Linked DNA regions of Homo sapiens. The protein of the gene in region 1 purifies or fractionates together with the protein of each later gene. This does not show direct contact. Each region holds a gene or a part of one and is shown in the gene's direction. Other genes may lie near its edges.

Evidence for each region.
Region 2: the proteins of HS2ST1 (region 1) and AGPAT5 purify together in Homo sapiens (affinity purification with mass spectrometry; one large-scale study listed by BioGRID and IntAct). This does not show direct contact.
Region 3: the proteins of HS2ST1 (region 1) and DYM purify together in Homo sapiens (affinity purification with mass spectrometry; 4 studies listed by BioGRID and IntAct, with this or other methods). This does not show direct contact.
Region 4: the proteins of HS2ST1 (region 1) and NMNAT3 purify together in Homo sapiens (affinity purification with mass spectrometry; 3 studies listed by BioGRID and IntAct, with this or other methods). This does not show direct contact.
Region 5: the proteins of HS2ST1 (region 1) and CDS2 purify together in Homo sapiens (affinity purification with mass spectrometry; one large-scale study listed by BioGRID and IntAct). This does not show direct contact.
Region 6: the proteins of HS2ST1 (region 1) and MAGEA10 purify together in Homo sapiens (co-immunoprecipitation; one large-scale study listed by IntAct). This does not show direct contact.
Region 7: the proteins of HS2ST1 (region 1) and CKAP4 purify together in Homo sapiens (affinity purification with mass spectrometry; 3 studies listed by BioGRID and IntAct, with this or other methods). This does not show direct contact.

The regions. Positions count from the first base shown.
Region 1 is NC_000001.11:87,071,635-87,075,134, forward strand, and holds part of HS2ST1 (heparan sulfate 2-O-sulfotransferase 1), read left to right. Parts: intron 1-1,299; coding exon 1,300-1,538; intron 1,539-3,500. UniProt on the Homo sapiens protein: Catalyzes the transfer of a sulfo group from 3'-phospho-5'-adenylyl sulfate (PAPS) to the 2-OH position of iduronic acid (IdoA) or glucuronic acid (GlcA) within the heparan sulfate (HS) chain and participates in HS biosynthesis.
Region 2 is NC_000008.11:6,729,142-6,732,641, forward strand, and holds part of AGPAT5 (1-acyl-sn-glycerol-3-phosphate acyltransferase epsilon), read left to right. Parts: intron 1-1,569; coding exon 1,570-1,685; intron 1,686-3,419; coding exon 3,420-3,500. UniProt on the Homo sapiens protein: Converts 1-acyl-sn-glycerol-3-phosphate (lysophosphatidic acid or LPA) into 1,2-diacyl-sn-glycerol-3-phosphate (phosphatidic acid or PA) by incorporating an acyl moiety at the sn-2 position of the glycerol backbone.
Region 3 is NC_000018.10:49,377,146-49,380,645, reverse strand, and holds part of DYM (dymeclin), read left to right. Parts: intron 1-887; coding exon 888-981; intron 982-1,945; coding exon 1,946-2,079; intron 2,080-3,500. UniProt on the Homo sapiens protein: Necessary for correct organization of Golgi apparatus. Involved in bone development.
Region 4 is NC_000003.12:139,629,473-139,632,972, reverse strand, and holds part of NMNAT3 (nicotinamide/nicotinic acid mononucleotide adenylyltransferase 3), read left to right. Parts: intron 1-3,500. UniProt on the Homo sapiens protein: Catalyzes the formation of NAD(+) from nicotinamide mononucleotide (NMN) and ATP. Can also use the deamidated form; nicotinic acid mononucleotide (NaMN) as substrate with the same efficiency. Can use triazofurin monophosphate (TrMP) as substrate.
Region 5 is NC_000020.11:5,125,519-5,129,807, forward strand, and holds the start of CDS2 (phosphatidate cytidylyltransferase 2), read left to right. Parts: upstream 1-1,489; 5' UTR 1,490-1,574; coding exon 1,575-1,631; intron 1,632-4,289. UniProt on the Homo sapiens protein: Catalyzes the conversion of phosphatidic acid (PA) to CDP-diacylglycerol (CDP-DAG), an essential intermediate in the synthesis of phosphatidylglycerol, cardiolipin and phosphatidylinositol.
Region 6 is NC_000023.11:152,135,778-152,139,947, reverse strand, and holds the start of MAGEA10 (melanoma-associated antigen 10), read left to right. Parts: upstream 1-1,370; 5' UTR 1,371-1,473; intron 1,474-2,978; 5' UTR 2,979-3,077; intron 3,078-3,867; exon of another isoform or gene 3,868-3,958; intron 3,959-4,113; 5' UTR 4,114-4,170. UniProt on the Homo sapiens protein: Not known, though may play a role in embryonal development and tumor transformation or aspects of tumor progression.
Region 7 is NC_000012.12:106,245,221-106,249,167, reverse strand, and holds the start of CKAP4 (cytoskeleton-associated protein 4), read left to right. Parts: upstream 1-1,147; 5' UTR 1,148-1,316; coding exon 1,317-1,799; intron 1,800-3,947. UniProt on the Homo sapiens protein: Mediates the anchoring of the endoplasmic reticulum to microtubules. High-affinity epithelial cell surface receptor for the FZD8-related low molecular weight sialoglycopeptide APF/antiproliferative factor.

The DNA.
Region 1 (3,500 bases):
AGAGAATTGCTTGAACCCAGGAGGCAGAGGTTGCAGTGAGCCAAGTTCGAACCACTGTACTCCAGCCTGGGTGACAAAGCGAGACTCTGTCTCCGAAAAAAAAAAAAAAAAAGATGATTTGACCTAGTCAGAGCTATCAGATGCTTCCCTGGGAAGCAATTGAGTTGAAATGTAAAGGTTGGGTGGGGAAATGGAAGATTGTTCAAGATAGGTGAGATAGCTTGCACAAAGACTTGGGGGTTAAGAGAGTACGTGCTATATGTGTAACTATCCCCGTGCAAAGTATTTGCAATCTTGCTAGAGATTTCACGCTCCTCATTTCCTTCTTTCCTCTCCTTTTCTTGCATCCTTATTCATATATATTTATAAAAGAAAAAATATATATTTGAATGTATATTAGAATGTATAGATATTTGAATATATATATTTGAAGCTGAAGTTTGCATTAAATAGAGAATACTAGAAAGCAAAATGTAACTGCTTTTGAAACCACATAGCAGATAGGTAATTTTAGAGGAACCATGAAATTTAAGTGAAAAGCATAGCCATGTGCTAAACATAGTTTCTAATGCAACACCAAAAAGAAAAAGGATTTATGGTAGTATTGTTTCTACCCTTCTAAGTCATATTGTTTCTACTCTTGTTAAGTCATATTAGCATTTATAATCACTTTATAATCACTGTCCTGTTACAGTTTTTTAATTTATAATTTATAATCACTTTATAATCACTGTCCTGCTACATTTTTATAAACCAGAGAATAACTAAATCGGGTAATAAATTTCAAAACCTTTTCTTAAATTATAAGTAATTTCTCTTTTAAGTGCATTTTTATACTGTGAAGTTTAGTATTCCATGCAATCTTTGTGTGTTTGAGAATTAGTTCAGGCTGTAGGAATTCTATTAGAATGTAAAGTGACTTTTGAACTGCACTGAAGTACTCTGTGGTCTGTGCTATTCTGCATTTGTTGACTCTTTATTCCTTTTTGTTCTTGATATACATATGTATTATCCTTCATAAGGAATTCTGAAGCTTTGGTCCTCAAAACATTTCTTCAACAGCTCTTACCTAGTTCTTGAATAGGAAGATTATGTTCCAGGCTGTACAGCTGTTTTAGAATCAACTAGATCCTCTTAGAAACCCAAGCAATTTACCCATGTTTTCCATATCCCTTGGTTCTTTGCTTTTGTTTTTTGTTTTCTTTTTTGTATCTTTTCTAATCATGGTCCAAAGTTCAGTGTTCATAACTTCCTTATAGTGTCCTTAAAAACTTAGTTCGTATCTGTTTTTCTTTCCAGAAAGGGCTATTGCAAGACACGAAGTCCGAGAAATTGAGCAGCGACATACAATGGATGGCCCTCGGCAAGATGCCACTTTAGATGAGGAAGAGGACATGGTGATCATTTATAACAGAGTTCCCAAAACGGCAAGCACTTCATTTACCAATATCGCCTATGACCTGTGTGCAAAGAATAAATACCATGTCCTTCATATCAACACTACCAAAAATAATCCAGTGATGTCATTGCAAGATCAGGTAATTACCACTTAAGGAATGCCCAAATATTTTCTAATACTTCCTCACTCAAATTTTCTAGCTCAAGGGGATAAAGTATTTTAAAGGGATGTGAGTGCTGATCTCAGTGGATCATAAGCCTTTTAGGGGAGAGGGCCAGCTAACTTTTGTATAATTTTACTTGACAGTATTTGACACATTTCCTTGCATATAGTATGTACTCAAATATTTGTGAAGTAAATGAATTAATGAATAGCTTGAATTTTTGAGAAAACTGATGTTCCTGAGCATAGTATCCTTTTAAAAATATAATTTTGGCATGATACCCTGCAATAAAAATTATTGTCTCAACTTATGATGGAGAAATATTTGATGGATACTTGTATTCAATTTTGTGACCAGCCCCTCTTTACTAGATAGAGATAGAGATAGATACAGAGAGAGTTTATATATACATTGCTTATAAATGTATATATAGTTTAGTTGTGGCTTCTTCAACATAATCTTACCTTTTAAATTCTCACGAAGTTTTAGATAAACAGATGAATAAATAATTTTGTGAAATGGTTTTAAGAAAAGTAGAGGAAATTATCTTATGAAATAAAATTTGCTCATCTCTTTAATAGTAGTAGCATACATTTCTCCCACACCTGGAATTTTGACTGCAATTATAAATAAAGTTCTCTCTATAAATATGGAAGGGCATGGGAATTCCACCCCATGAGAAGGAAAGATAATGTTTGCAAATACTACTTAGGATCAAATACCAAATTGGAGTAGGCTTATTAGAAAGATATTTGTGATGGTCCTGTAGTTACAATGATATTTATCTGTTTGAAAGCAGTGAACTTGTTACAGAATTGACTGTCATCTCACTATTTAGCATAACTATAATCCTTACACTTAAACAAGAGAATTACATTGAGACACAAGACTAAGGTTGGCTTTCTTGCTAGAGAGCTGTTTGTAAAGGCTAGTAGTATATGGTATGTCATCTGCCCATGTAATTTTTGGCTCTTTGCAGAATCCTGGAGTACTCTTTTTTGTAGAACCAAAATTCCACATCTGTCGGCCAAACCAAATAACTCTTCTATGAATGAGAAGAAACATGAGTTGTTTTTAGCTATGTGTGTCATAAAAACTATTCATTATGTAATATTGTGTATCTCAAGGACAAGTATCCTAAATATTCTGTTTTTATACAGTGTGTAGTAGGTTTTAAATCTTTTTGCATTACTGCTTTTCAAAATATGCTTTGGTTTAAAAGGAATATGTATTCATGCTTAGATAATAATTTCAGATTTATTCAGTAGTACTTTTTAGAAAAATAATGTTAATTTGTTTGTTCAGCATTACAAAGTCCTGGTAACTGCAAGATGTCTGGCAATGACATCAACCATTATTTTCATGAAATATAAATCTGGAGGAGCTCACCACATATGACATTTATAGGCATCATGTAGTAGTATATTTTCCCAGTTGCATTTGGATGAGATAAAGCTTCTGTTTTTCTTTTAATAACTTGTTGGTTATGTATAGGAAAAAAAAAACAGCAGGAGAGAAGCATAAATGCTATCTTAAAAGCAATTGGATTGCATAATGACCAACACTTAAAAAATGTTTGTGTGGGGCAGCGCAGAAGAATAGTCTTAATCATTAGCTGACATACTTCAAAATTATCAGCTGGTAGTCCAAAACCTGATCTTAATTAAGAGTAACTTACTTAACAAATGTTCTTTATATACCCTATCTCCAGTTTTGTGATCTCTTGTTCTATGTAGACGCAGTTCTTCAAACAAGTTATATTTACTGCTTCCCCTTCTTTTGTGTGACATGTTTTCATGTTTACTTCACTTTTAATCTAGTAAGCTTCATCTAAATGTAAACTAAAAATTGCACTGTATTTCTTAAAAATAATTTTTAAATATTCCCTGAACCCCATCTGATATAACACACTTTTATTTTAATAATATCATATTTTGT
Region 2 (3,500 bases), on another chromosome or scaffold:
TAATGGATAAGAGATTTTTCTTGGTTAATTTTTAGTATTAAAATGGCTAAATCTTTTTTGGGATATTCTGACTAGTATGGTGCATTGTCTAATAGATTTCCCATAGCTGAGAGCTAATCATCTTGTAATCTGTGGAAAACTGTCCTCTTTGGCTAAAACTTTATTGTAATTCCTCTAAATCCTCAGCTTTTATTTTCTACAGACTTTTTTTTTTTTTTAACATTTCCTTCCTCTGACTCACTCCTTTTGTTCTCATTTTCATGGCCTGAGAACATGGGTGATGATAGAATTATTCTTTTCACAGATTAACAGTTTTCTTTTCGAGTATCGTTGAGCTCATGTGTGTATTAACTAGAGAAGTCTCCCTTACATTTCATTTTTATGTTTTCTTTCTCATCAGGAGATAGTTTGTAGCCATTTACTTTCAAATCCAAGTTTCTGCGGTTCTTAAGACCTGTATCATTTGTCTCCTGAATTTCACTTCATTTCCTCTTTAAACCATGTCCTCTGTTTCCCATCTTCTGCACCCACTTTGCCACTTCCTGTTTGTTTAATTGGCAAGGGCCACTCTCTGTGTTGGAAATTTTTTCTTTTTGAAAGCTCAACTAACAACTTCTAGGAAGTTTTTTATTGCTACTGTTATCAATTCATACCATCTTACCCTTGTTTTTGCAACCCTTTGTTAATAACATATTTATTTAACTATAGTTATTAGCAGTCTGAGATCATTTTACTTGGTTACATAAGGAGCACATATATCTACCCAGCATCATTGTAAGGCATGTGAGACCTTTGTTTGATTGCTGTCCTAACCTAGTACCGAGTCCTAAAAACTCATTAGTAGAAGATGAAGTGTCCTTGCCTTTTGCTGAACATATATATACACACTGAATATTTAGTGGCAATTCATAGTTGCATTTGGCCATTTTTTGTTTATAATTTCCCCTTTCTCATTAAAAAAACTTTGTTTTCTAGACTTTAGGATTTAGAGAAGCTCATTTTGTTCCATACACATGCTGCTGTTGGATTATTTAGGTATTTTGTGACTGTATTTTATCTTTGAAATAAAAAGCCTTTCAAGAAATGCAAAAAAAAAAAGCTCAAAAAACAGAAAATGTATATTTTTTAAATATCTCAGATAGATTTAAAGAAATTTTAAACATCCTAATCATAGGACTTTTTTTTTTTTTTTTTTTTTTTTTTTTTTGGAGACGGAGTCTCGCTGTCGCCCAGGCTGGAGTGCAGTGGCGCAATCTCGGTTCACTGCAGGCTCCGCCCCCTGGGGTTCACGCCATTCTCCTGCCTCAGCCTCCCGAGTAGCTGGGACTACAGGCGCCCGCCACCTCGCCCGGCTAATTTTTTGTATTTTTAGTAGAGACGGGGTTTCACCGTGTTAGCCAGGATGGTCTCGATCTCCTGACCTCGTGATCCGCCCGCCTCGGCCTCCCAAAGTGCTGGGATTACAGGCGTGAGCCACCGCGCCCGGCCATCATAGTACTTTTGAAGCCCATTCATAGTACAACCTGTGAAGAGCCTCATGTACGCGCTAACTGGGTCCTGTCTCTGCAGTTGACTGGATTGTTGCTGACATCTTGGCCATCAGGCAGAATGCGCTAGGACATGTGCGCTACGTGCTGAAAGAAGGGTTAAAATGGCTGCCATTGTATGGGTGTTACTTTGCTCAGGTAACTTGTTTCCATGCTTTTCTCTCTATATATGTAGTTTATAAATTTTTTTTTTTTTTTTTGGAGACAGTCTCACTTTATTGCTCAGGCTGAGTGCAGTGGTGTGAACACAGCTCACTGCAGCCTTGACCTCTGGGGCTCAAGTGAACCTCCTGCCTCTGCCTCCCAAGTAGTTGGGACCGTAGGTGCCCACCATCATGCCCGGCTAAATTTTCTATTTTTTGTAGAGATGGGGGTCTCGCTGTGTTGCCCAGGCTGGTCTTGGACTCAAGCAATCTGCCTGTCTCAGCCTACCAAAATGCTGGATTATAGGTGTGAACTGCCATACCCAACCCTATAAAAATGTTATATTTTAAAATTTAACAATATACTTCATGTGAATGTATGGTTTTTAAAATGGGTTTAATAGTTTATTCTCAGTTGAAGTAATTTTGTTTGGCATTTTTAGTGGTGTGTATTTATATACGTCTGATTATCCATATGCGGTTTTCCTTCAGCATCTGTGGGGATTGGTTTTAGAACCACCACAGATACCAAAATCTAAGGTGTTCAAGACCCTCATATAGAATGGGATAGTATTTGCATATAACCTGTGCACTACTTTAAATCATCTCTAGATTACTTATAATATCTAATACATTATAAATGCCATGTAAATGGTTGTTATACTTTATTTTTTATTTGTATTATTTTAATTGTTATATTATTTTTAATTTTTATTTGTTCACATATTTTTGATCTGTGATTTGTTGAATCTGCAGATGTGGAACTCATGGATGTGAAGGGCCAGCTGCAGTAAAATGAAAGAGCAAAAATGCAAATGTACAAAGTTCAAACAAATAGGAAATTTAAAGGCATAGAATTTGATAGGCAATTACATTAAACTGTTGATAACAGTAATTAGTGATCTGTATGATATTAAAAAAAAAAAGCAAACTGTATATATAAAACTTACTTTCTCCAGTTCTGGAGGCTAGACATCCAAGATCAAGGTGTTGACAGGGTTAGTTTCTCCCAAGGCCTCTCTCCCAGGCTTGCAGACAGCATCCTTCTTCCTGTGTCCTCAGGTGGTTTTTTTCCCTGTGCCCAAGCACCGCTGGCACTGCTTCCTCTTCTTAGAAGGACTAGTTACACTGGATGACTAATCCTTCTACAGAGACTGCTAAGGTCCCACTCTGAGGCCCTTTTTTAACCTTAATTACCACCTCTAAGTCCCTCTCTCTGAATACAGTCACAGTGGGAACTATTAGGGCTTTAGTAGACTGATTTGGGGGAACACACTTCTGTCCGTAACAGTGCCACATAAATATCTTTAGCAGGATTGATTTTTTAAAATCCCTAAAGATCGTGAGACATGTTAAGGACGCTTTTTAGTGACTCTGTAATAAGTGGGTGGAAGAATTGGGAGTTAAATCCATCTGATGGATCAGGTTTTTTATTTTTAAAAATGTGTATTTAAGAAAGAAAGCATTTTCATTTTAACTGCCAACAAAACTAAACTTCATGTGTTTTCCAATACAGTGTCACATGCAGTTTTTTTGAATTATGTTGAGACAAGGCAATTTTCAGCTAAATGTTCTTTAGAAGCTAATGTTTGAAGATATTAAATATAGATTAAATTCTGAAATGTAGTTTTCATTCTGTACTTTTTGCAAGAGAAGTTGCCTTTTTGATGACTCTGGCCAATTGTTATTTTAAAAGTAAATGCTCTTTCTCCCGATTTGATTGTGGCAGCATGGAGGAATCTATGTAAAGCGCAGTGCCAAATTTAACGAGAAAGAGATGCGAAACAAGTTGCAGAGCTACGTGGACGCA
Region 3 (3,500 bases), on another chromosome or scaffold:
AGTCCAATTTCTTGATTATAGAGGTTGCTTCAACCTAGCAGTTTAAAGTCAAAGATTTGAGCCAGTTGATAAGGATGTTTCCTTGAGCAAGTAACAACCTCCAGGTGAGGATCGGTGAAATGCAAGTGATACTAGTGCTTTTCCTGGAGGGTTGGTGTGAGGATTAAATGAGTTAATGCATGTAAAGCACCTACTCTATGTTGTTCAGCATATGTTAGCTGTTGTTTCTTTTACAGATGAGAAAACTGAGGTTGGAGAAGTACAGTGATTTGTCTGAGATTCAGTATTCAGTTAATTATAGACCTGGATCTAGAAACTAAATCTTCTGATTCCTGATACAGTTGCTGAAATGCCCATCGTTTAAAGTTAAAAAAAAATTCTTTAAAGTTTTGTCTGGTCAAATAGCTCCCCTTCTAGCCACACTGCTTTGTTGATATGTTTTCTTAATTTTTCATTCAAATGATTTGTAATCTGAAGAGTGTTTTAGATTTAATAAACTTTTATAGTTTATTATATTCTATATACTGGAGACATAGATAATCAATTTTTGAGTTTTTAAAAATCTCCTTTCTAGAGAAAGATTTAGTGTGTAAGTTGAATGTGTCTATTAACTATTTTTTCCTTTATGATTTTGGATTCTGAGATAAGATGGCTACTTGTACTGTTTCTATCATTTTCATTTTGCAAATCAGTTTTTGATGTTCAGAATTAAGACCAAGAGCAGCAGTTTCTCTCATTGCTTAGTTCTCTAATTAGGTATGAAATTAACAGTAAAGTTGGTCACTGAGCAATTTTAATATGACATTTGGTTTTATAAATGTTATGATAAGCTCACTTTGATTTTAGTTCTTAAATTTAACTTTTTAAAACCTTTTCTTCTCTTGCAGTTGAAAACAATCCTCGAACAGGAAATCTTGGTGCACTAATTAAGGTCTTCCTTTCTAGAACCAAAGAACTAAAACTTTCAGCAGAATGTCAGAAGTAAGCTGGCTAATTAAACCATGTTTGCTTTATATTTAACAATGTGAATTTTAGTTTTCATTTATTGATGGAAATGGACTGTGGTCTTTTGAAAATCTCTGTGAAGGAATTATTCTCATTATTAAGAAAAAAAGGTAGAGAGGTTTTAGGTTAGTGTCTAAGTCACTGGGGTGAGATTATAGATTCGGGAATCTGATTTCAGCTTTTTAGACAATCTTTAGATTATATTCTTTAAGAAGGTGAATAATGATGTAATTATCGTTAAGAAGGTAATTCCCCTCCCCCCCATTATCACTGCTGCTGCTATCTAGTTTAAATGATGACTTAGTCTGAGTTTTATTTCATTCTACATCTGTTGCAGTTATTTCCGTTATATTCTTTACATCAATGGAAGGTTAACTTTTTATGCACTGAAGCATTTTTCAAAACCATGTTTGGATGTCAGTCTCTGAAAAGATTAAAATATTTTGCATTGTCTTGCTTATAAACAAATTACATTGAATCCAATAAAGTTTTTCTTGGGAGTTCATGGTCATTAATACAAATAAAAAGTATTTTACCGTGCTGCTGGCAATGCCTCGTCGAAAATTTTGGTTACATATTTGCATATATTCTTTTTATGTTACCACAATTTTTTAAATTTTTTGGTAGCTTTCTTCTCTTTTAATCGCATGTACGTGGTATACCTATTAAGAACAAAGAACAGTCATTCCTACAGTCATCAGTAAAGATTTTTATTAAGTAGATTCACTATGTAAAGTACATGGAATGAACTATGAAGTAAAACATAATATCACTGGTACAATGAAATAAATCATGAGCCATTAAAAGATATGGACATTATCCTAATATTACCAATAGGATGGACAAAACGGTTGTCAAATCAGGAAGAAATCATGAACTAGAAATAAACTATGGTGCTTATGTTTAAATATTGATTCTTGTATGATTTTGGTCTTTCTAGCCACATCTTCATTTGGCAGACACACAATGCTTTGTTTATTATTTGCTGTTTGCTGAAAGTGTTCATCTGTCAGATGTCAGAGGAGGAATTACAACTTCATTTTACTTATGAAGAAAAATCTCCTGGCAATTACAGTAAGTATTGTTTTTAAAGATGTTCTGGATATATCATGTGTAACATTTAAGGATAAAATTTCAGGAATAAAAGTATGATTTTGAAAATTCCAGTTATCCTTATAATTTTCATTTTAAAATGAACTTATACTGTCATTTTTTCTTTTTCTGTGTTAATTTAAATGAGTCAAGACTCAAGCGTTTTTTGTTTTTGTTTTTCGTTTTAAATAAGAAAGCTGGTGGGGTTGAAGCTTTCATTTATTTTGACTTTCATGCATGTGGATGAAGAAGAAAGTAATATAAAAAATAAAACTCACACAAATATGTATTTCTTTCAGAAAACAGAGGTGTCAGTTTTAAATATCATTGCCAAGTCAATATATTATTAAGGGAGCCAACTAGTCAGATTTTATGGTAAAGGTTACTTTCATAGCGTGCAGCAATAGCTTCTGGGTCTGAGTGTCTTTGGGACTACGACACTTTATCAGAAGTAACATTTTCAAGGACAGTTTTATGATGCCAAAGTGTCTCATCTTTTTCTGAAGATACAGGGAAAGATTACCCTTCACACAATCTTTCCTTTCTGAGGGCAAGGCAGTGTTGCCCCATAGTTTTCCGAGTTCTGTTTTCAAAATAGATCTCTGCCCTCATCAGGCTGACAGCGTCACCTGTGTGATTCAAGGTCATATGTTAACATCTCTTGTGGGAACAGGTATTGGGAGAGAACTTTGAGATGTGTATACTTTTAATGGAGGTCTGTGTGCTATGTGGATTTCATGCATATGTATAATAACACTTTCATATACCTAGGAGTAATTTTTCACTGTGGTTTCAACTGTGTTGCTAAATACGTGTTTTTAAATGTCAAAGTCAAATATTGACAAAGGGAAACAAACGTATAAAAGAGTTACTGTTCATCCAGGTCAACATCACAATGTACTGATTTTTCAGTATATCCATGTCTATGGGGAATATTTCTTAAATTCTATTATAGAATTTTTATTTATATTTTTATTTTTATTTTTTTTGAGATGGAGTCTCGCTCTGTTGCCCAGGCTGGAATGCAGTGGTGCGATCTTGGCTCACTGCAGCCTCTGCCTCCTGAGTTCAAGCAATTCTCCTGTCTCAGCCTCCTGAGTAGCTGGGACTACAGGTGCATTCCACCAAGCCCAGCTAATTTTTGTATTTTTAGTAGAGATGGGGTTTCAGCATGTTGGCCAGGCTGATCTTGAACTCCTGACCTCAAGTGATCCACCCACCTTGGCCTTCCAAAGTGCTGGGATTACAGGCATGAGCCACCGTGCCCGGCCTAGAATTTTTAAAAACAATATTATGGGGAAGTAGAAAAGATTCTGTGGAAAGTTAACCTTTTGTGCATTCAAGCATTTCTTAAAACTATTTTTAGATGGCAAAAATCTTATGGAAATTCTGGTTATATCATT
Region 4 (3,500 bases), on another chromosome or scaffold:
GTTTAGCCCCGTTGCTGCCCTCTTTATGGGGGCCTTCATGATAAAACTGAGTAATCCAGGCTACCCTCCTCATTTCAAGATTCTTTATGTAATCACATCTGTAAAGTCCCTTTTGCCATGTAATATAACATATTCACAGGTTCCAAGGATTAGGACACGGTCATTTTCAGGAGCCAATTATTCAGCCTCTTGCAGTGAGGTGTTAAGCCCTGAGCCCTGATCCCTTACCCTGGGGGTTATTGCCTATTGAATTGTCCTTCCCATAGATGACTGGAAGCTCTTTGAGGGTGAGGGCTGCATCTGCATTGCCTCCTATTGCATCCTACTGTCCAGTAGAGGGCCTGGCCACTAGTAGATGCTTAATAAGCAGTTGTCCACTGAGTAGATGGCAGTCAGGGCAGTGCCAGAGACCAGGCTGTTGTAGAGAAACTGGACGGACTCTGAAAACCAGTGCAGTGAGCAATGTCTAGGCAGTAAAATCTGGAAGGAATTGTCTGGACTGTCTTGGCAAATGGACAGCCATCAACCTCCAGTTCTGTAGGGCAGAGGGATGACCTTGGTGTCAATGTGCAGGAGGCCAGCATATCCCTGTTGACAGGATCATGGTGGTAAAGAGGGCCCAATAGGCAAGGATGTCTTTTTTAAGTTTCAGATTGAGTCGGGTGAAGTGGGGCTTTGGGGAGGGATCTTGTGTGCCTTCAGGGAGCCAGAAAGTTCACTTTATATCTCTGGAAGGCTCATTCCATTGACTGGGACAGAACCAAAGAGAGGAGGTAGACATCTGACAAAAATACTTGGTCAGGGATAGACACTGACTCTGTTGTTCTTTCCACACACATTTCCTGAGTACCTATTGGTGCCAGGCACAGTGCTAGGAGTTGAAAGGACCAAGATGAATTTAAAAACCACTCTCTAATCACTTGAGCCCAGGAGTCTGAGGCTGCAGTGAGCTATGATTATGCCACTGCACTCCAAACTGGACAACAAAGTGGGACCCTGTCTCTTAAAAAAACAAATAAAAAATAAAAAACCTCTAAGATATTATCTTCCACTTGGAGAAGAGCAACATGCATTAAAAAAATGACAGTTCTCTGGTGAAGAAACAAAAAGGTGATAAAATATGTAACAAGTACAGAGTTAGCATGGTGGTGAGGGCAGTAGGGGGGAGGTAAATATTCCAGGGAGAAAACCTTGAAGGCAGATCATCAGGATGGCGTTTCAGGTGGTCATGACTGCTTTTGCAGAAGCAGCATGTTGTGCTTGAGGAGTGGGATGAAATGCTGTCTAGATGACTATGGAGTGGGAGGCAGTAAGCTGGGGAGGGGGCGGGAGCCAAAGGTAGAACCTGTTTGCCTTGTCTCCAGTTTAATGATAAATTCCAACAAGCCTGTACACCACATTCTCAACTTGTTAAATCCTTCAGCTGCAATTATCACTCTCTGGCCTCCATTAAATGCTTATTGATGAGAAGCCTTCCCCAATAGCAGAAGTCTCCCTCACTTGCTCCGTCTCACTAGATATTATTAGATGATAAGGGCAGATGGGACACTTTTATAGCATGCATCTTGCCTTGTGTCTGATGAGATTTGCACTCAAATTAGAGCCAGTTTATTGTCCTGGTGGATCCCTGGAGTGATTCCATTTTAGCCCTATCACTGTATTTCGCTGGGTTTGGCTTGGGAGGGTACTTAGTTGAAGCAAATTTGAGTGTACACATGGTACAGGTGCACTGACCCTGTTACTGATCCTGGGAATGTGCACTCCTGTGTCCTTCAGCCTGCGATATGGCCCAGACATAGCACAGTCACCACTAGAACAGTGTGGCTCAGTATGCCCACAGCAAAAAAAGAAAGAGAGGCACTTATTAAAGGTCATTTATTCTCCTTCTCAGCATCACACTTCATTGCTGTTGATGCCACCATTCAAACAAATTGTTCTAATTTATAGTTTCTGGGAACTTTTGGAAAAATGGATGAGAGCCCCAGGTTACCTGAGATGCTGTTACATATTTTAATGGTGCTAACAATGTATATTTTGTCAAAATGAAACAGGATTTTGAAAGACTTCATAACAGTTGTAAAAAAAAAACAGCCACCTTTTCAGATACAGTCATCACGAGGCTGCTCTTGTGAATAGCTTGGCACACTTTGCAAATATCTCATTAAACCATCCAACCTCCCTGGGAAAAAGCTAGCAGCAGCTTGTTGACTGCTTTCTTCCCACACAGTTGGGGGTATTCCTGCTGCCTCAAAGGAAGTATGGAGAGACCACGGCCCGCCTAGGCTGAGAGCTTTTCATCTTCACACTGTAGCTCAGAGTACATGCCCTCCAGCCTGCCAGTGCCCTGTTTCAGTCTTCACTGATCCCTACTCTGGGCCAGGCTCTGTGCTTCGAGCTGAAATCCCAAGAAGGAGAAAACACCACTTCCCTTCCTAAAGGGTTTACTGTCCAGTGGATAGGAAAGACACATAAGCAGGCTTTTTCAATAAAATGTCGCTTGTGGTTTATTAAAGGTAAGTCAGAGATGAGTTAACCTAAGCTAGATGTCAAAGAAGCCATCTCAGCAGCCTTCCACCCTCCCAAGTCCCAGACACTTGTATCCCCAACTCTGTGGCAGCCACAGTGAATTAGTTAATCCAGTTTCCAATCCCCTTTCCCTTACTGTTCTCACTGGAGAGGCTGTCAAGCTAAATAGATGCCTTTTCTGGCCTCTGTTGTAGCTACAGTGGCCATGTAACCTAGTTCTGGCCAATGAGACAGAAGCAAAATCTACAGGAGGTTCTAAAAAAGCTCTTGTGTTCTTGATTAAGAGGAATAGCCAATCTAGTACAGCTTCTTGCTCCTCCTTCTTGCCTTTATTGAGGTTATGATGTGACCATGAGACAGAAACTGAAAGAATTGTAGGTCATTGTTGAGCCCATGATTTCATGTCATTAGGTGCCTACTTCCAGACTTTTTGTCATGTTAGAAACAAATGAACCTCTCTTTGTTTAGACCACTGAGGTTAGGCTTCTGGTATTTGCAGCTAATATATCCCTAACTGATATAGGTACCTAGCAGGTAATTGATAAATAGTGATGAAGTAATAAATAATGTGATCATATGAATTGGATCTTAACATATTGGGATGTGCCGGGGGGTTTTCTGGTTGGAGGAAACCAAAATAGCCTGTACAGAAGGTTGAAGCAGGAAGCCATGAAGATCTCACAAAGAAGTCCTAATAGGTAGTTCATTGTTGCTAGAATATAAAGTAGGAAACTGGATGAAAGCCTGGAGAAGGAGATAACATGGGCCAAATTGAAACAGTTTCCTTTGATATAAGCAGGGTCCCAGGTTCCTGTGACTGAGCACTCTACATGTTGCCCCCAGAACTGCAGGATTACAGCTAAGACCATCACAGCAAGATGAATAATAAAGGCAATAAATGCATTCCTCCCATTGGTTTCTGTATTATCTATTACTGCATAACCAATTACATCAAAATGTAGCAGCTTAAGATA
Region 5 (4,289 bases), on another chromosome or scaffold:
TATTTTTTTAAAAAACGAAATTGCAATTCTTTTGTGTGCAAGTGTCTCATTGTGAGATTACAGTATGCTTAAGTTGGGGACGCAGTGTTATATGTGTTTTACATCACTTACAGGGCAGTGAATAGAAAGAACAGGAAACACCAAAGGCAATGCTGGAGCAACACAAGTATTAATAAATGCAGGCAGGCAGTATAGTATGGTGGTTAGAGTGTGGGCTGGTAACAAACCTGTTTGTGTTCTAATTCTTACTAGGCACTTTCTAGCTGGGAGACCTTGGCTAAGGTCCTTTTAAAAGTTTTAAATCCATCCAACAAGTACTTACAATGGATGTGTCAAAGACATAGAGGATGCACAGTAAACAAAGTAGACAGCACTTCTGTCCCAAAAAAGGTCTTTCCATAGTCCAGAAGACAAATTTGAAAAACTGAGGAAGGGCCAGGCTCGGTGGCTCACGCCTGTAATCCCAGCACTTTGGAAGGCGGAGGCGGACGGATCACCTGAGGTCAGGAGTTCGAGACCAGCCTGACCAATATGGTGAAACCCCGTCTCTACTAAAAATACAAAAGTTAGCCGGGCGTGGTGGCGCGCACCTTGGAATTGTTTGCGCCCGGGAGGCAGAGGTTGCAGTGAGTCGAGATCATGCCACTGCACTCCAGCCTGGGCGACAGAGCGAGACTCCGTCACAAAACAAACAAACAAACGAACAAACAAACAAACCACTGAGGAAGATCTTAACTGTAAAATTCAAATCATACCCACTTCCAAGCCATGTGTGGATTAAACGAGATAAGCCAACTAAAGCGATTACTCAGCTCAGTGCCTAGTATACAATTAGTGCTTAACAAGTACTAGCGACCGCTTGGCAAAGCAAAGCAGACTGAAGCGTGGGTTTCATTTCTCATCATGTGATAAGTGATAAAATGCTCTTAACCAGGTCGGCTCACCTGGCCTTTCCATTCGACCTAAATAACGTCTACTTACTTGCGTAAGGGAAGAGCTCTGGCCCAGGTCAGCAAGCATTTGTCAGGCTAGAGCCTCCGGGTGGCGCTTCTCGCCCTCAGTAACCGGTTACCTCCAGAACCAGGGCGCCAGCTCCGGCCATCCGCGGTTAAGCGGGAGCTCCCATTGGCTAATCGCACACTGAAACGCACGCCTTTTCCCGCCCCTGACGCTGCCGTCCAATGCGCGCCTCTCGACTCTGCTCCGCCCCGCCCCGCCCCCGTCGCCCTGCCTCCCTGGCGTATTTGCGCCATTGGTGGATATTCCGGACCGTGATGGTGGCGCTGCGCGTGCGCACTCGCTCCGAGCCCTGCTCCCGGGAGAGGGAGCTCTCGGGTCGGGGCTAGGGAAGGCTGACCCCGCTCGGCCCGGGTGAAAGGGCGGTGACGGCACTGGGTGGGGCCGAGCTCCAGGGCTGGCTGCTGGGCTGCTAAGGGAACTGTGAGCCGCTCAGAGCCGCGCGCCTCCCGGGCGGGGCGGGGCCGGCCGTGGGAGTCCGCGCGTGCCCGCGCCGAGCTGCCTGCTCCGGCGGCTTCGCTGCTAGCTCGCGGCGACGTCGGGCCGATTTTCCCAGGATGACAGAGCTGAGGCAGAGGGTGGCCCATGAGCCGGTTGCGCCACCCGAGGACAAGGTAGCGGCAGCGTCGGGGTGGGCGCGGCCGGGACAGCGGCGCATCCGGGAGGCCTGCGGGGGACGCGCGCAGAGGGGTCGTCTTGTTCTCTGACCCTTTGTCGCAGCCGACGGCGGCCCCGGGCCCGGGTAGCGCGAAGGGCCCTCGGGTGCCCGGCCTTCGCGGCGCGCGCGTCAGGGGTCGGCGGGTCGGGGTCCCGGCTCAGGGTCTGACTGAAGTGGCTCCCCCGGGGCGCAGGAAGGAGCTTCTCGGGAGTGGCGCACGGCCTCCTGCCTCGCTGGGCTGGCTGCGGGGACTCCCCTCTCCCCCAACTCCGTGAGGCCTTCCTGGAGGTGAAGATATGCAGAGCCTTCTTAGGGAGGCGGCTCCTCTGAGCGCAACTTAGGCTCTCCGTTCCCTTTTACAATGTTATTATTTTGGGGGGTGGGGGAATCAGGACAAGGCCATAGCATTTGCCTCCTGGGAGATGTAAATCCCTTCTTGGGCATGAAATCATCGGCTTTGAGCAAAGGGGTGTTACCCAGTGAGCCAGTCCGTCATCAGCAGGTGTTGGAGGGCGTCCTCCCGGTTGATGGGTTGTTTCCTGCACCGTGTGGGCTCTGGTGGGTAGGGGAGGAGAGTAGGAAGGAGGCCATCTTGGCGGGGACAGTGGCGGGGGTGACGGGTGGGGGAGTGGACTCCTTTGGGTGAAGTGAAAGATCTGTGTAGGGGAGTTAAGGAAGGTAGGGATTGGTTTTATTACTGTGGAGGTTGAATGGCAGTATAGGACTTTGTAGCAGTAGTTGTGCTTTCCGAGATAGCAGTGATCAGGAGCCCTGTGTTTGGGAAACTGATCAGACAGTGATGTGTAGAAGGGACTGAGGGAGCCTGGACCAGACTGAGGGAGCCTGGTTCACTCGGGATTGCCCATGAGTGACCTGTAGATGTTTTCTTTGGCCCACATATTGCCTTAAAAATCAGAAAGTTTCTCCTAACAATCTAAATTTCTTGCCTGTCTTAGATAATTGGAGGGTCCACCATCACTTTGTCACCTGCTCAATGGTTGGCTGGAGCTGAGGATCATCGGTTCCCACCAATCCCTGTTGCCTTACACCAGGCTCACGGCTTCCCCTAATGCAGCCTGTAACTTTTTGATGACTGGACGCAACGGACATTAGGGAGACACCCAGAAGGAAGAAAGCACAAGATTTGGTGACAGGATGTCAACAGAGCAGTTACACTAGGAGGAATGTTTTTGGTGAAAGATAATGAGATCATGGGTTTTTTTTAAACAACTTTCGTGTTATTGCAGTTGACAGTGGACTATCCAAAGAGAACTGTTCCTACCGATTTTTAGAACATATATTTTGGCCAGGCACAGTGCTGCTCGCCTGTAATCCTAGCTTCTAGGGAGGCTGAGGCAGGAGGATCGCTTGAGCCCAGGAGTTTGAGACCCTGTCTCAAAAAACAAAAACAAAAACATATTTTGGAGAACATTTAGGGCTGGGGCTGAGGATTTAGCAGTCGCTTGCAGAGACAAGATACTTTGAAGTCTCTAATTTTTCATTTGGCTATCCTGGTTCAGCCTGAAAGAATTCTGACTTACCTTGTACTACTAGTTGGTGAGTATGCAGATGTTTGGAGGCTCTGTAGCTCTGTTTAAGGGTGAGATCATGCTTGATGTTAGTGGGACTTTGTGGACCTAGAAGGTGTGAGGAGAGAGAGAAGAAAGAAGGCATGATAGCTGGTGGGCCATGTTTTTGAAAAGCTAACTATGTACAATAATTAGAATGTCAAAAAACAACCTTGGGATTATGAGATGCAACATAAAGATTCTACCCTCCTTCCCGGACTCGTTGGATCCATCCCCCAGAGATAAAGTGCGAGTTGAACCGTCTTACTTTCACATCCTGTACTTTAGACTGGGAGGACCTGAGGAGCTGTCCAGCTAGAGGTGCACTTATATCACTTATACAGTGACAGAATGCCTGGGGTCATGAGGTCCACTTGTGGCGTGTTGTTTCCTAAAAGACAGCTGCTATGCACTCTGTTAAAAGCCTGATGTTCATTACCGAGAACAAGACAATCAGTTCCTCACCCCATTATTCAGAACTTCTCAATTGTCACTGAATTGTCATGTATGGGATTTTATTATTATTATTTTTTTAGACGGAGTCTCTCTCTGTCGCCCAGGCTGGAGTGCAGTGGCACGATCTCAGCTCACTGCAACCTCTGCCTCCCAGGTTCAAGCTAGTCTCCTGCCTCAGCCTCCTGAGTAGCTGGGACTATAGGCATCCGCCACCACGCTCGGCTAATTTTTTTTTTTTTTTTTGAGAGGGAGTTTCGCTCTTTTGCCCAGGCTGGAGTGCAATGGCATGATGTTGGCTCATCGCAACCTCTACCTCCCAGGTTCAAGCAATTCTCCTGCCTCAGCCGCCCGAGTAGCTGGGACTGCAGGCGTGTGCTACCATGCCCGGCTAATGTTGTATTTTTAGTAGAGGCACGGCTTCTCAATGTTGGTCAGGCTGGCCTCAAACTCCCAACCTTAGGTGATCCTCCCGCCTCAGCTTCCCAAAGTGCTGGGATTATAGGCATGAGCCACTGTACCTGGCGTTTTTTTTTTTGTATTTTTAGTAGAGATGGGGTTTCACTGTATTGGCCAGGCTGGTCTTGAACTCC
Region 6 (4,170 bases), on another chromosome or scaffold:
CCCTAAGCAGACTGCAGAATTTCGAATTGGACCTTGTGTTTGGAGTAGGGGGAGTGGAGGACAACAGTGCATTTGCGGAGGTCCGCAGCCTGCATAGACGGCAAATAAGAGGACGAGTAGGAAGAAATATTTGAATTTCTGGCCCTGCTTTATTGCACAATCTGAGGCAACACTTCATACCACGATGCCAGTAGCCCAGTAGCTCTGGAGTGATATCAGGACAGCAGGAAAGACGGGGTTGATTGAGGGAGTATGACTCCGGAGTCTATGCTGCTAACCACCTAAAACCACCACAGTGACGACTGGTCTTAGTTGATCCTCTGCTACAAGTTAATAATTCTTTATATTAAATTTTCTTGCTCAGAAAAAAAGAGAAAAATTATTATAATAGAATATAAAGAATAGACCAGAAATAGAATAAGCAGTGAACCACACAGCGTAAGGTAGGTATTCTTTCATGAAATGTTATATATGTATTCAATATACACTTGGCAGACATTTAAAACACATATTTTTACTAGGAATGAGGGTTAGAAAACCAGACATCACTGCATTGGACTATAAAATATCAGCTAAACTCAAAACAGCAGGACCTCTCCACACCCCGATGCTCAGCCTCTTTCTTGTAGAAAATATACCCTTTAGGACAAAAAGTTTGCCAAGTCTACTTGTGGCTTGGGAAGAGCCCCGTTGGGAAGGTGTGCGTCTTCTCCCATAGGTCATTACAATCACGGGTGTTGCAGCTCCCCAGGGACCATCTGGCCTGGGAACCGCACCCATGCTCTGCAAGGGATGCAGCTGGGCAAATGATCAGAGGTGACGGAAACTGAGCATCTCCCACCCATCACTTCATCAAAGAGACAAAAGCCAGGAGGAAGACCCTCCTGAGTGAGGACCGAGGGTCCACCCACCCCTCACAAAGGGGCCACAGAATCCAGCTGAGCCCCTCTTGTCAGCCCTGGAAGACCCTGGCAATGTTGTCACCCCTACCACAACCCTCCCCTCACTGCCACCTTGGAAGACTCCGAGTCAAGAGACCTGGTTTAAGGGGAGAAGACATCCTCAGCACAAAACAGGGGTCCAGGCTTTTCCAGGCATCAAGGTCGAGACACTGAGGGATGACTGAAAGACCCCACCCCCACCCCCACCACGACCCACAGCCCCAAGATCCCCATCCCAGTTCCCACCTCCACGCCCCTCCCCACACTCATCTTCACCACCACCCCTGCCCCAACCCCATCCTCACCCGTACCCCACCCCACCCGGACTCCCACCCTCACTCCCACCCCAACTCCCACCCCAGTTCCGGCAGAATCCACTCCGCCCCTGCTGTCAACCCAGGGAAGCCCCGGGGACCGGATGTGACGCCACTAACTTACGCCTCGGGGATCAGAGAGAAGCGAGGTTCTCGTTCTGAGGGACAGGCTTGAGATCGGCTGAAGAGAGCGGGCCCAGGCTCTGTGAGGAGGCAAGGTGAGAGGCTGAGGGAGGACTGAGGACGCCCCCAACCCAGATAGAAAGCCCTAAATAATACAGCGCTGCCTCTGCTGCCAGCTCTGGACCACCTGAGGGCAGACTTCTCAGGCTGGGCTGTCACCCCCCCCCCACCCCCGCCCCCACTCTCTCCCGCCGCTTAAGCCGCAGGGGACTCTGGGAGTCAGAGCTTGGTGTGACCAGGGCCCGGCTGGTTCGGCGGGAGCCGCGCCTAGGTTCTGCCAGCATCAATGTCGGGACGCTCAGGGAGGGCTCTGCCCCTGATGTCGGCCCTGGGAAGCCCTGGTCATGGCGACCAGGAACGCAAATTCTGACGTCGGCATCTGAGGCTGACGTAGGGAAGGGGATATTGGTACCAAGAATGCGGCTTCAGGGGAGCAGAGGGAAGGCCCGGGCCCTGCTGGGAAATGAGGGAGGCATGAAGGGATCCCAGGACAGGGTGCCCACCCCACCTCTGTCTCAGACCGAGATGTCTCTTCACTCGGCCTGAGGAATCCAAGGGACGGTGACTCAGGTCTGCGGCGGGGCGTGGTAGAGGAGAACAACCCAGCCAAGAGTCAAGGGGAGGAAGAAGAGAAAGGACTCAAGGGACCTTGGAGTCCAGATCAGTGGGGACCTCAGCCCTGGGTGGTTTCAGGCACGGTGGCCCATGTGATGTGTCTTTGCTGTGCCTTTGGGGTGTCAATGAGGAGAGGGCTATGGTCTGAGGAGTGGAGCCTCAGGTCAGCAGAGGGAGGAGTCCCAGAGCCCTGAGGGAGGACTCAGCAGATCCCCGCATCTCAGAACTAGGAAATCTGTCCCTCTTATCAGCTCTGGAACCCCAGGCAGGACGGTGAGGAAGAGAAGTGGCCCCCACTTTCTCACCGGGGATCCCAGGGAGATGGTGGCTTTGGCGTGCAAGACCCATACACGATTCAGCAGGAGGGAAAGGGCTGGGCCCTGTCGGGAGTAAATCTGAATACCTGGAGGACACCCAAATAAAGGAAGTCCCCGTCTTGTCCCCCTCCCCTGCCCACCACCCCCCCCCCCCCCCCCGCCAAATGTCTGCTCCTTCTGTCAGCTTTGGGAATCCCATGCAGGTGTGATCGTGTGGTGCCCCTCCCCACTTCTGCCTGCCGGGTCTCAGGGAGGTGAGGACCTTGGTCTGAGGGTTGCTAAGAAGTTATTACAGGGTTCCACACTTGGTCAACAGAGGGAGGAGTCCCAGAATCTGCAGGACCCAAGGGGTGCCCCCTTAGTGAGGACTGGAGGTACCTGCAGCCCAGAAAGAAGGGATGTCACAGAGTCTGGCTGTCCCCTGTTCTTAGCTCTGAGGGGACCTGATCAGGATTGGCACTAAGTGGCAAGCTCAATTTTACCACAGGCAGGAAGATGAGGAACCCTCAGGGAAATGGAGTTTTGGTGTAAAGGGGAGATATCAGCCCTGGACACCCCACAGGGATGACAGGATGTGGCTCCTTCTTACTTTTGTTTTGGAATCTCAGGGAGGTGAGAACCTTGCTCTCAGAGGGTGACTCAAGTCAACACAGGGAACCCCTCTTTTCTACAGACACAGTGGGTCGCAGGATCTGACAAGAGTCCAGGTAAGGAACCTGAGGGAAATCTGAGGGTACCCCCAGCCCATAACACAGATGGGGTCCCCACAGAAATCTGCCATGACCCTACTGTCACTCTGGAGAACCCAGTCAGGGCTGTCCGCTGAGTCTCCCTGTCTTATACAAGGATCACTGGTCTCTGGGAGGGAGAGGTGTTGGTCTAAGGGAGCTGCACTCGGGTCAGCAGAGGGAGGGTCCCAGACCCTGCCAGGAGTCAAGGTGAGGACTGAGGGGACACCATTCTCCAAACGCACAGGACTCAGCCCCACCCTACCCCTTCTGTCAGCCACGGGAATTCATGGGGAACTGGGGGTAGATGGACTCCCCTCACTTCCTCTTTCCATGTCTCCTGGAGGTAGGACCTTGGTTTAAGGAAGTGGCCTCAGATCAACAAAGGGAGGGTCCCAGGTCGTATCAGGCATCAAGAAGAGGACCAAGCAGGCTCCTCACCCCAGTACACATGGACCCAGCTGAATATGGCCACCTCTTGCTGTCTTTTCTGGGAGGACCTCTGCAGTTGTGGCCAGATGTGGGTCCCCTCATGTCTTCTATTTCGTATCAGGGATGTAAGCTTTTGATCTGAGAGTTTCTTAGACCAGCAAAGGAGCAGGGTCTAGGCTTTTCCAGGAGAAAGGTGAGAGCCCCACGTGAGCACAGAGGCTCCCCACCCCAGGGTAGTGGGGAACTCACAGAGTCCAGCCCACCCTCCTGACAACACTGGGAGGCTGGGGCTGTGCTTGCAGCCTGAACCCTGAGGGCCCCTCAATTCCTCTTTCAGGAGCTCCAGGGACTGTGAGGTGAGGCCTTGGTCTAAGGCAGTGTTTTCAGGTCACAGAGCAGAAAGGGCCCAGACAGTGCCAGGAGTCAAGGTGAGGTGCATGCCCTGAATGTGTACCAAGGGCCCCACCTGCTCCAGGACAAAGTGGACCCCACTGCATCAGCTCCACCTACCCTACTGTCAGTCCTGGAGCCTTGGCCTCTGCCGGCTGCATCCTGAGGAGCCATCTCTCACTTCCTTCTTCAGGTTCTCAGGGGACAGGGAGAGCAAGAGGTCAAGAGCTGTGGGACACCACAGAGCAGC
Region 7 (3,947 bases), on another chromosome or scaffold:
TGAGGTTCGAATGATGACTATATGTGACCTTGAGCCAATCCGAAGCCGGCTCGCTCAGTCTCAATTTCCTTCCTATAAAATGGGTAAAATAATTTCTACCTCACAGGGCTTTTGTGAGATTTCGAGAACATATGTGAGTCGCTAACCACACAGCCTGGCAATACCAGATTTCCTTTTACAAAAGTAGGGGTGACAACGCTGATCTGCCTCTTTCTGTGTGGCTGCTGCTGCCTCCGCAGCACCCATCCCAGAGGCTGTCAGGAGTAGGGGCCGTGGACAAACTTCATGACCCCGAAAGAGAAAACAGAGCTGAAGGGGCTTCGGGGGGAAAAAGTAAAGAGCTGGCCACAGCAGGCTAACTTGGCTAACGGGGACACTTGGTGAATGCGTCCCCTTGAACAGACTTACCACAGTCGAGAATCTTTGCTAACTCGCATCAACCATGCCTCCCAAGCTGGCTGGATTTTGGACAGCCTTTTTTGTCTCCGCCTTCAAACCCAAGGCAAAGGACAAGGCCCAACCCCATGGCGGGCTGGGAGAGTGAAAGCAGGGGGAGTCCCCCAATTCCCAGCGGAAAGGAAGGGCGATCTGTTCCCACCCGCTGACTCCCACTCCCGGGGCCAGGGCTCCTTGGGCGCCCCCCTTCATTTCTCTCCTCTCCGCACAGGTCGGGAAGGGAGGGGGTCGCGCTTGGCCCGCGGCGCAGGTTCACCCCGGCTTTCGTCCCTCCGACCCCGCCTGGCCGCCCATCCCCGACCCCCGTGGACCCTGCTCGGCCGCCCCGGCTGGGGTCGATCTGGCCCTCCGCCCCCAGCCTGCGTGGAACCCGCCGGGCCGCCAGCCCCACCTCGGCCGCGTCCCCTCCCCTCCGCTCCGCTCTTCTCCCCTCCCCTCGCGGCCACCTCGGTGCCCACCCCGGCCTCCGCAGACCCCGCCGGGACCCCGCCCCGCGCCCAGCCACCCCCGCGCCGGCTTCCCGGCCCCCGTAGACCCCGCCCGGCCCTCCCTCTCCGGGGTCGTGGCGGCGGGGAGGAGGGGCCGCCGGGCCGGCGTGCGTGGCAAGCTCTCCCGGCTCGGCTCGCTCGGCCTCCCTTACCGGGAGGCGGGGTCGGCGCCGCGGCGGCGGAGGCAGGCCCCCTCCTCCCGCCTCCTCGGCCCGGCCTCCTTCCCCGGCCGCGCGTCCTCTCGCCGCTCCGACGCCAGCAGCGCCCGCGTGCCGCTCGCCCAGTCCCGGGGGAGCCCCTGCAAGTTTCCCGGGCCGCGCGCCGCGCTCGCTCGCCTCCCAGCCCGCGGCCCGAGCCGCCGCCGCGCCCGCCATGCCCTCGGCCAAACAAAGGGGCTCCAAGGGCGGCCACGGCGCCGCGAGCCCCTCGGAGAAGGGTGCCCACCCGTCGGGCGGCGCGGATGACGTGGCGAAGAAGCCGCCGCCGGCGCCGCAGCAGCCGCCGCCGCCGCCCGCGCCGCACCCGCAGCAGCACCCGCAGCAGCACCCGCAGAACCAGGCGCACGGCAAGGGCGGCCACCGCGGCGGCGGCGGCGGCGGCGGCAAGTCCTCCTCCTCCTCCTCCGCCTCCGCCGCCGCTGCCGCCGCCGCCGCCTCGTCCTCGGCGTCCTGCTCGCGCAGGCTCGGCAGGGCGCTCAACTTTCTCTTCTACCTCGCCCTGGTGGCGGCGGCCGCTTTCTCGGGCTGGTGCGTCCACCACGTCCTGGAGGAGGTCCAGCAGGTCCGGCGCAGCCACCAGGACTTCTCCCGGCAGAGGGAGGAGCTGGGCCAGGGCTTGCAGGGCGTCGAGCAGAAGGTGGGTACCCCCGGCCCCGCAACTGTCCCCATCGACTGCGGCCTCCGGACCCACGGCCGGGCTCCTTCGTGCTTCCCGACCGGCCCCTAGCGCTGCCTGCCCAGGCCCGGAGGCGGGAGCCGGCCGCTCCTCCTTGGCGGGCCCTGGCCTAGACATCCCACTCCACGCGGCCCCCTAGTTCCGAGGCAGTCCCCAGACCCCCTTTGTTAATGGCTGCGGAGGAATCGGCCCCGAGGGATGGGCCGCCGCGAGGATGCCCAGGCCCGCCTGGCAGGGTGGGCCAAGGGCCTGTCACAGGGCATTAGCGGTGACCTGTAAGGAAGCCGGCAGGCTCCGGGGAGCCCATTCTTTCTGCATTAGGAACCGCTGAATGGGCAGAGCTGTCTGAAAAGGAGGTTGGAAGGGAAGCCAGCGCATCCCTGGAAGCCTCAGGCAAGGCCCCACCTCAGCTCTGCCTGTGGGAGACATCCGAGCGGGGTTTTTAATAGACCCGGAGCTGGCATTCTTACTCATTTGCAGGTCCAAATGAAATACCATCTATCTTTAGGTCCCTTGTCCTGTATTGGACCAGCCTGCCCAGGTGGGCCTTTGACGTAGTCCTACTTCAGCTTTTTTGGGTTTTCTTTTGAGAGGGAGTCTGGCTCTGTCGCCCAGGCTGGAGTGCAGTGGTACGATCTCAGCTCACTGCAACCTCTGCCTCCCAGGTTCCAGCGATTCTCCTGCCTCAGCCTCCTGAGTAGCTGGGATTACAGACATGTGCCACCATACCCAGCTAATTTTTTATTAGTAGTAGAGACAAAGTTTCACCGTATTGGCCAGGCTGGTCTCGAACTTCTGACCTCAAGTGATCCGCCTGCCTCGGCCTCCCAAAGTGCTGGGATTACAGGCGTGAGCCACTGCGCCCGGCCCTACTTCCGCTTTAGGGGAAGAGGAGGGCCAAAAATACTAGATCATACTGGTGAATAATACTTCTAGCCACATTTATATGGTGTTTAGAATGCTTACTCACTCACATATTATCTAATTCTTATAACTACCCTGGGAGGGAGGACTAACAGTTTTGATTTCATTTCCCAGAGCAGAACATTGAGGTTTAGACAGAGGAATGAGTTGACAAAGTCCCCAGCTGGTGAGTGACAGACACACGAGAATGTCTAGGCCACTGCCCTGTTCGTCAAGGGTCCACAGGGGTCCATTTCAGGTATGGATGGACCCAACTCTCAAGGCGAAGGTGCTTAGCTTCCACCCTTCTGTGGTTTTTCCATACCAAGTACAGCCCCTTTGATCTTATTCGCCCTCCACTATGTCATTGCTCAATGAAAGTTGGTTGCAAGACTGAAACAAAAAATCCCGCCACTTCTGATCCCGGAGCCACTGCCTCCTTTTCCCAGCATGCTGTCTGTCCTGCCAAGTTGCTCTCTGCTTTTGTTGAGTGTGCAGGACCAGGAATTTCCTCTTAAGACTGGCAGAGCACGGCCGGGCGTGGTGGCTCACGCCTGTAATCCCGGCACTGTAGGAGGCCGAGGCGGGCGGATCACCTGAGGTCAGAAGTTTGAGAGCAGCCTGGCCAACATGGTGAAACCCTGTGTCTACTAAAAATACAAAAATTAGCGGGGTGTGGTGGCACATGCCTGTAGTCCCAGCTACTCAGGAGGTTGAGGCAGGAGAATTGCTTGAACCCGGGAGGTGGAGGTTGCAGTGAGCGGAAATCCTGCCAGTGCACCCCAGCCGGGGCAACAGAGTGAGACTCCGTCTCAAAAAAAAAAAAAAAAAAAAAAAAGACTGGCAGAGCAACTGGAATGAGTCAGCCTGCTAAACGCTGCAGGCCAAGGGAGGTGACTTTTCTAAGGGAATTAAGTAGGCAGTGCTGCTTTGCCTATCCTGAATGTCAAACCATTCTTAAAAAATAGACATACTGCTGGAGTATAATGACTAGCCTCTGTTTCTTCTCTTTCATCCTCCTACTTACTAGTCAATCATAATATTTATTAAAGTCTGACAGTTGCATGGCTCTGTGTAGGCTTTGTGGGAGGGTATGAAGGAGCAAAAGACACGAATCACTTGTGCAGCGCATAAGGAGGTGTCAGTTGAGGGTAACTCCTGTGAAAGTTCAGAAGAGGGAGGGTGTGGAATTTCGCCTGTATCCCG